Linked DNA regions of Homo sapiens: region 2 is linked to region 1. The links come from fine-mapping of genetic effects on gene expression. A gene starts in region 1. The other region holds a variant in brackets. All regions are shown on one strand. Distances are between the middles of the regions.

Region 1 (4,394 bases):
CACCACCAGACCGGGCTAATTTTCTATTTTGAGTAGAGATGGGGTTTCATCATGTTTGCCAGGCTGGTCTGAAACTCCTGACCTCAGGTGATCCACTCTCCTCGGCCTCCCAAAGTGCTGGGATTATAAGCGTGAGCCACTGCGCACGGCCTAGAGCAAGATTTTAAAGAAGGGGTGGGACATTTATTACCAAACAAGAGAAGAGGGGCTTTCTAAATGGGGGAAGTGAGGTAGCAAGTGCTTTTGTAGGGTCTTTGCCCTGTTTGACTAGAATGATCAGGAACAATGGAGGGTAGTGCAAATGCTGAAGTTAACTGTTTTGTCCCGCTTGCACCTTATATGAAGCAGGCAGAGGGTTGGAAGGCCCAGGATTGCCTCCCCCCCACCCCCTCCAGCCTAGGTAATATTCAGAGCAGCCCTCTATGTGGGCTCTGGGGGAACTGGTGACCGATGGGAAAGCATGTGGCAAACGAAACTCCCTGTTCTCCTGCCACATATTGAGTTCTAGATTAATTCCCAGCTGCCCTAGTTGTTCTAGTGGGAACTGTCTGGCAGGCTCAGTATTTACAGAATGTGCTTCTTTTTGTGTATCTAATTATGTCTTCACTGCCAATCCCATTAACAAGAATCTCCTTCAGCAAGGAGTTGAAATATCTGATAGGACCTAAATTTTGGGCTGAAGTTTTCAAAGTGTGGGGTTATCAGGAGCTGGGGAAAAGGGCTCAGGCAGCTTCTCAGTGGTGGTCTTAAAGGCCAACTCAGAACTCATTTCTGTTTTCATCTCTCCCTTAAGAAATGGCATCTGCCTTTGAAATCCCCATAGACTACTAGCATGCTACATTTTTGGAATGAGGCCATAGCTGGACAGGGTCCACCTTTGTCAGCCAAACACTTAAGTCTCTCTTCGTGTAAGAAGTTAGAACAAAGCTGTTGGGGGATAACAGGTATGTTTTGTGACTGTGCTAGAAAAACAGTTATTTGGCTGGGCGCGGTGGCTCACGCCTGTAATCCCAGCACTTTGGGAGGCCGAGGCAGGGGGGTCACGAGGTCAGGAGTTCGAGACCAGCCTGGCCAGCATGGTGAAACCCCGTCTCTACTAAAAATACAAAAAATTAGCCAGGCATGGTGGTGTGCCCGTATAGTCCTAGCTGCTCGGGAGGCTGAGGCAGGAGATTTGCTTGAACCCGGCAGGCAAAGGTTGCAGTGAACGGAGATCACGCCATTACACTCCAGCCTAGGCGACACAGCAGGACTCTGTCTCAAAAAAAAAAAAAAAAAAAGAACAGTTATTTTTAAACCAAATGACTAAAGGCTTCCTTATTCCAGCCAGGTTAACTGAGTGATGTCCACCAGGGAAAACAAATCTGGCTGTAAGGACATGAGCCCCCTCCCAAGCCCTCCCTAAGCCATTTGTGAAGACATCACATACATTCTGGCTCCTTGGTCTGTGTTCATCTCCTTCCAAGCCAACTCAATCTTGGCGGTTACTAAGATAATAGAGTGAGAAGAGGGTTTAAACTGCAGCAGGAGAAATCTGAGTTAGACACAAGAAAAGGCTGTTGGAGCATTTGAAATCTTTGTGAAAGGTTATGTCTTTGGAAAAGGTAGTCATCTAAGGATTAAAATCACCTTTGTAAGATGGATTTGTAGAGACTTGGATAGTGGCTGCTCAGAAAATAAATGAACAAATAATTTACCTAGCTGTCTTCCATGTTGGTGTTGAGGCCTCTGCCAGGTAATGTTAGGGACACAGAGATGTAGGAGCTGTAGCTCCTGCTGTCCAGTCACTCATATTGTCATCAAGGGTTCCATCCGTCAGCAGGTGAGAAGTTGGATAACAGTCAGACAAAGCACTAGAAGCGATGTCACAAGGCAGTACACGATTAATTGCAAAATGAGTGGTGCAGATAATGAGCGCTTATGTGTTCAGAGCAGGGCGAGATCGCTGCAGACTGGTGTGATCAGAGAGGGCTTTATGGAGTGGCGAGGTGGTGAAGGATGGGTAGGATGCAAAGAGGCAGAGAGAGGGCACGCCATGCTGGGAACTTTAATAAAAGTCTTCTATGTTGGTGTGTGCTGAATCAGTTCTGCCTAAAGACATGGTGGATGAGGTGACCTTTTCCCACTTGCTTTGGCTCCAGGCTGAATTCTCTAAGCAATAAAGGAAAGAGGAATCAAAATAAAATTGAGAATGGGGGAATTTTTTGCCCGTGTGCCCATGAGTTGAGTTTTTTTTTTAAAATTTCATCTGTGAGGCTGGGGAATAAATAAATGATTCCAAAAATCTTTCATCACTGGGTTTCCAGTAGAAACTCCAAGTGGGCCTGAACAGTTGCAGCTGCCTACTGTACACCACTGTGATCATCAGCGCCAAACCTGGGGTAATGGTTCCTCTCCTGCTCCCACTCAGGCTCCCCACCCAGAGCTTCTTAAGGGCAATTGGAGACTTCTTCAATCCACTTTGGATCCTAAGAGTAGAACTCTGTGGGTTTTTACAGTGATTAGTTCTCTAATGCTGGCCCTGTTTCCATAGAGACCCTATAAATAGAGGAATGTTGGCGACCTAGGCTGGCAAAGGCTCAGGGTGACCCAGTCACCCCACTGAACCCTCACAGCCAAACTGTTGGTAGGGCGGAAGGAGTTTCAAACCCAGGTAGGAGGAAGGGCTATGCAGTCAGCTGCCAGGTGGGATAATTAGCTATAGATTAGTGTGACTTTAAGCTTTCCTGGGATTTGTTGAGAACACACGTACCTGTAAAAATTAGAAACCACTTTTGGTCATTTTTAACCAGATGGTGCCAATGACACTGTACCCCAAGGCATTTTAGTTTTGTATTCATGCAGCTGTGTTTGCAGATTTTGGAGCAAACTTCCCCTTTGGGGGACCCACACCCAGGGAGAAAGACGGATGAAGCCCAACTGTTCAGAAACCACAGCCTTCTCAGGAAGGATCTTTCAGAAGCCATCTAGTCCTCCCTTTTTTCCTGAAAGGACAGTGCCACCCAAGGAGATGGGGCTCTTCCTGCCCTTTCAGATAGTTCCAGGGGAGGGACAGCCAACTCCCCTCACTTCCTTCCCCGGGGCACCTCACCCTGGGAGGCTCTCCTTTCTGACTACCTTATGGCCAGTTCTGGGGACGGCACTTCTTGCTTCGGTCTTACAGATCATGAAAGCCCTGTTTGTTTGCCACCTCTAACTCTGAAGCATCTCAGCTCTCTAATGCATGGCTTCATTTGGCCACCAAAATGGTTTCTGGCAGCCAGGGAAAAGCAAAAGTCAATGTGGAAAAGCAAGTGACATTTTAGGAGCTGGAACCTGTTAGTCAGAGCAGGTGGTGCTTTCTGCTGCGTTGGCGGCTAAGTTCCCTTAAGCTAGTCACCATGGTTTTCCTCACTTCTGAAACTTGTAGCTGGTTATGTGTATGTGCTGAGTTTTTTTTTTTTAAAACACTTACTGTGTTATGTCAAAACTCCTTAACCATCTCCTCCCTGACACCCACATGCAGAAGCGGCCCAGCCCTTGCGTCACTTTGCTGTTCCCGCCTCGCACCTTATCAGTGAGGAAAAACCCCTTCATTTGGAGTAATCTCCTCTCTCTGCACCTTGTTCTTTGACTTCCTTTTTGTTATTTCCCTCCTGCCTGCCTCAGACTTTAATAGATTCCTCGGTCTGCTGGGACAAAGGTCCTGGGGTCTCCTGGTCACTTTCCCTAGGTTTCCTTCAGCTGCAGGACAGCTCAGGGAGGTGGGAAGTAAAGACTTTATAGTTGAGGGTCTTGTCCCATAACATGGGATGGGCAGGTCACAACAGCAGTTCAGGGGACCTAACAACCCTTGACCCAGGCATTTTTGTTTGGCGCCTGCCTCTGATACTATTCTGGGACACATGCAAATACCCTATCTACTTTAAATCTTAAGTCTTGAAATCAGTGTATGGGCCCATGAAGGTAAATTCAATTAGAAGTCGGGGGTTTCTCTGTGTGGCTTGGATGAGCCACTTAGCTATGCTGTGCCTCCGTTTCTTCATCTGCAAAATAGACACTGATGCTGTGACATCTCACATTCCTAGCTCCTGAGATTAGGCTAGTGTCAGATTATAATGACAGTATAAATCGGAACGCACTTTGCAAAATGCTGTTGTATAAATTTTAAAAGTAAATTGACCAAGGATTTTAGGCTCCAAGGCAATATGGCAGACATCGGTGGCCACCGTAGCTCTCCCCAGCACCTCCACCAGCCTCCCGGGGATAGGGGAGAGGAAATGCCTCAGAACTCTAGGACCTCTGCTGAAGTCTTTAGAAGGGAAACTCTTTCTGCCTGAGTGGATCCTCAGTGTTGGAGAAGCCAGTTTAGGAATGGGGGGAGAAGAGGAAGGGACCTGGAATAGAACGCTAGA
Region 2 (4,394 bases), 21 kb before region 1:
CAACATAATGAAATCCCGTCTCTACTAAAAATACAAAAATTAGCTGGACGTAGTGACGCATGCCTGTTGTCCCAGCTACTCAGGAGGCTGAGGCAGGAGAATCGCTCAGGCTTGGGAGGCGGAGGTTGCAGTGAGCTGAGATTGCACCACTCTACTCCAGCCTGGCGACAGAGTGAGACTCTGTCTCAAAAAAACAAAAACCAAACAAAAGAAAAGTATTTCCTGGCCACGTGCAGTGGCTCATGCCTGTAATCCCAGCACTTTGGGAGGCTGAGGCGGGTGGATCATCTGAGGTCAGGAGTCTGAGACGAGCCTGGCCAACAGGGCAAAACCCTGTCTCTACTAAAAATACAAAAATTAGCTGGATGTGGTGGCATGCACCCGTAGTCCTAGCTACTAGGGAGGCTGAGGCAGCAGAATTGCTTGAACCCAGGAGGTGGAGGTTGCAGTGAGCCGAGATCATGACACTGCACTCCAACCTGGGCAACAGAGTCAGACTCTGTCTCAAAAAGAAAGAAAAGTATTTCCTGAAAGTGTCGAGAGTTAAACAATTAATGAAGATGAACACACAGATCTACTTTTGTTCCCTCCTAGAACACCATTAAAATGACAGTAATGGGATTTTTTAAAGCACAAAGCCAGGATAATGAGAGGAGTTGGTAGCAAAAAAGAAAGTGGAAGATGAAAAGCAAATGGGCAAGTTTTAACTAAGAAACCTGAATCCTAAACCCAAAGTAATAAAGTTGAGATCCAACCTTATATTGAAGAATCCCCTAAGTCTTAGAAACTGGTGACAGTAGGTCCCCCCACTGCCTATTGTGGAAGTATAGTTGCTTAAGAGCAGTTAAATCCTGAGGTCACTTCCTCATCTTCAACTTCCACCCCACCCTCCGAAAAACAAGACTGAAGTATTTATTCTCCAGAGAGGGTTAAATAGCTCTCTGCATAAACAGGGAGATAAGTGAATGTATGGATATTGGATACCCTCTTCATTCAATTCCTAGATCTTTGGCTACCAGCTGTTTACCCTCCAAAGATAAAACTTAAAGTGTCATCATGAAGGAATATGAGCAGCCCAAGAAGAAAGACCCAAGTTACTGACATCAGAACTGAGATTTTTGTCTGGCTGTTTGTTTCACTGCTGTATCTCCAGCACCTAGAATAGTGCCTGTCACTTAGTAGGTACTCGTTAGATATTTGTTGAGTGACTGAGTGTTCACTGTAGATTGATTGATTGATTAAGTAGAGGCAGGGTTTTGGGGTTTGCCATGTTGTCCAGACTGATCTCGAACTCCTGGACTCAAGTGATACACACCTGCCTTGGCTTCCCAAAATACTGGGATTACAGGCGTGAGCTATCATGCCCAGCCAACATTTTTTAACATTCAGGAAATCACAAAAGAGAAAGTAAAAACCACTCATACTTTTACTACCCAGAAAAAAACAGTAGGTTATATTGGTATCCATTAATGTTGTCATTGGAGGAAACGAGATAGGTGAGAAATATTCTTTCTAACTTTACTTTTCTATACAAGTTCCTCTTGGTTTGATGATTTCTGGAGAGATTCTGAAGCCTTGATCTTCCTGTTCATGTAGGTGGAAATCATTTTTTTAGAACACCATAAAACATTAACACTTAATTCTTCCATATGAATTAAGAACAGTTTACTAAGAGAAAGTATGACTATTTTCTGTTATGCAACATAAAATCAGAATCACAAATCCAAGAATTTTAAAAATCTACAAATTGAAGGAAAAATAAAGAATTACATATTATTGAGTTTTATTATATTATATTGAAAAATTATATTGATAAATATAAGTATTTCTTTACTACTTGTTTGCTCATTATCATCTTCTAAAGTTACCAGCAGGTAGGTAATATTTAGCTCCAAAAGAGAGGACAAATTATGGAAGAAAAGATGAAAAATACAACCCATTAACCCAATTTTTTTCTATGAATTGGGAAAAGTCACCATTATCGAATTTAACAACCAAACATACTTTCTTGAATCTCAATACTGATTCCCAAGGGAACATGTTTGAGAATCCCTGGTTCTAGACAATCTTGCCCTCTTCCCTGCCTATAGTGTATAATGCTGGCAGTGTTGCAGAACAGTGCTTCTGAAACTTCAGTGTGCTCATGAATCATGTGGAGATCTTGTTAAAATGCACTTCTGATTTAGTAAATCTAGGGTGGTGCTTGGGATTCTGCATTTATTTTATTATTATTATTAATTTTTTTTTTTGAGACGGAGTTTTGCTCTTGTTGCCCAGGCTGGAGTGCAGTGGCATGATCTCAGCTCACTGCAACCTCCGCCTCCTGGGTTCAAGCAATTCTCCTGC[C/T]TCAGCCTCCTGAGTAGCTGGGATTACAGACACACGCCACCAAGCCCAGCTAATTTTTTGTATTTTTACTAGAGATGGGGTTTCATCATGTTGGCCAGGCTGGTCTCAAACTCCTGACCTCAGGTGATCCACCCACCTCGGCCTCCCAAAGTGCAGGGATTACAAGCATGAGCCACTGCGCCCAGCCTATCTTATTTTATTCTATTTATTTTATTTATTTATTTATTTTTGAAGCAGAGTCTTGCCCTCTGTCACCTAGGCTGGAGTGGAATGGCATGATCTCGGCTCACAGCAACCTCTACCTCCCAGGCTGGAGGTAAGTGAAAGTGCTTTGAAATGGAAATTGGCCAGGTGTAGTAACTCAGGCCTGTAAATCCCAGCACTTTGGGAGCCCAAGGCAGGAGGATTGCTTGACCCCAGGAGTTGGAGACCAACCTGGGCAACATGGTGAAACTCCATCTCTACAAAAAACTTAAAAATTAGCCAGGTGTGGTGGCACACGCCTGTAGTCCCAGCCACTTGGAAGGCTGAGGTGGGAGGATCACCTGAGCCTGGGGAGGTTGAGGCTGCAGTGAGCCATGATCATGCTGCTGCACTGCAGCCTGGGCAAGAGAGTGAGACCATGTCTCAAAAAAAAAAAAAAAAAAAAAAAGAAATCCTGTAAAAATGTAGGGAAAAGCAAGGGAATCAGAGAGAATCTAACCCGAATTTCCAGTCCTGGCCGTGCTGCTTACTTATTTCATGATCGTAAGCAAATTACTTAGAGCCTCATTCACTTCATCTGTAGAGGAGAACTAATACCCAACTCACAGGGTTGTGAAGATTAAATGACATAATGTTTAAAGCAGTTAGCACCTTACTTTGCACACAGACATGCTTAGGAAATGTTTTCTGTCTGTAGTAACTATTCACATTCAGGATTATGTATTTTTACAAGGAGGATAGCATTTCCAAGAATATTTTATGAGATTCTCTACATGAAGGTTTATTAACTTGAAGATTAAAGCTCTATAAAATTGAACTGCTAAATGCTATTTAATTATACATCAAATATCATTCCAATGCTGAATATTTCATCAGTGCCATGCCTGGCTGTTAGGATGTAGAGCATTGGAGGGAAACAATCAAAGGGAATTTGGTATAACTCTAAACAGAGATCATCTTTGTTTCACTGCCAAGTAGAAGAACAAGGTTTTCCAGAAATGTTTTAGAGTAACTGATCCAAAGCTTTCCAGAAGCCCTGAACATAGTTTTGTCACAATTCATTTTTCATCAGTAAGACAGTAGATCGGCATTGCTTTTCTTTTTCTTTTCTTTTTTGAGACGGAATTTCGCTCTTGTCACCCAGGCTGGAGTGCAATGGCGCAATCTTGGCTCACTACAACCTCCGCTTCCTGGGTTGAAGGGATTCTCCTGCCTCAGCCTCCCAAGTAGCTGGGATTACAAGCACCCACCACCACACCTGGCTAATTTTTTGTTTGTTTGTTTTGAGATGGAATTTCGCTCTTGTTACCCAGGCTGGAGTGCAATGGTGCAATCTCGGCTCACTGCAACCTCCGCCCAGGTTCAAGTGATTCTCCTGCCTCAGCCTCCCGAGTAGCTGGGATTACAGGAATGCACCACCATGCTCAGCTACTTTTGTATTTTTAGTAGAGACAGGGTTTCTCCATGTTGGTCAGGCTGGTCTCGAACTCCTGACCTCGGGTGATCCACCCGCCTCAGCCTCCCAAAGTGCTGGGATTACAGGCATGAGCCACCGGGCCCATCCCCATTATTGCTTTTCTAAGTCTAAATGGCTGTGATCCTTTCTCCACTATGTTATCTGACAGTTCAGTGGAACCCATATTTGGTTTATTTCCCTACCTACCTGGAATAACACCTTATAATTGGTTATATTCTTATCTCTGGGCTGATCCTAGGTGGATAAAGATAGATAGATTAACACCTACCAGTACCCTTTTCTATGTCAATGTCATTTATTTATTTATTTATTTATTTTTGAGATGGGGTCTCTCTCTCTCAATCTCTCTGTCGCCCAGGCTGGGGAT

The links. PIP is the estimated chance that this variant, and not a neighbour inherited with it, causes the effect.
Region 2: its variant is the best candidate, but not a certain one, in a credible set for the expression of TMCC2-AS1 in testis (GTEx, PIP 0.67).

The regions. Positions count from the first base shown.
Region 1 is chr1:205,234,808-205,239,201 of GRCh38, forward strand. It overlaps TMCC2-AS1 (TMCC2 antisense RNA 1), which reads right to left and starts at 2,484. Exons shown (of 3, transcript NR_183258.1): 1 at 2,377-2,484; 2 at 1,698-2,151. The region is part of intron 1 of TMCC2 (transmembrane and coiled-coil domain family 2); the gene reads left to right.
Region 2 is chr1:205,214,109-205,218,502 of GRCh38, forward strand. No RefSeq gene overlaps it. Among named protein-coding and RNA genes, the nearest start is that of DSTYK, 4.6 kb to the left of the region's middle. RefSeq lists an enhancer at 1-124 and a cis regulatory region at 52. The variant C/T (reference allele first, on the strand shown) is at 2,347.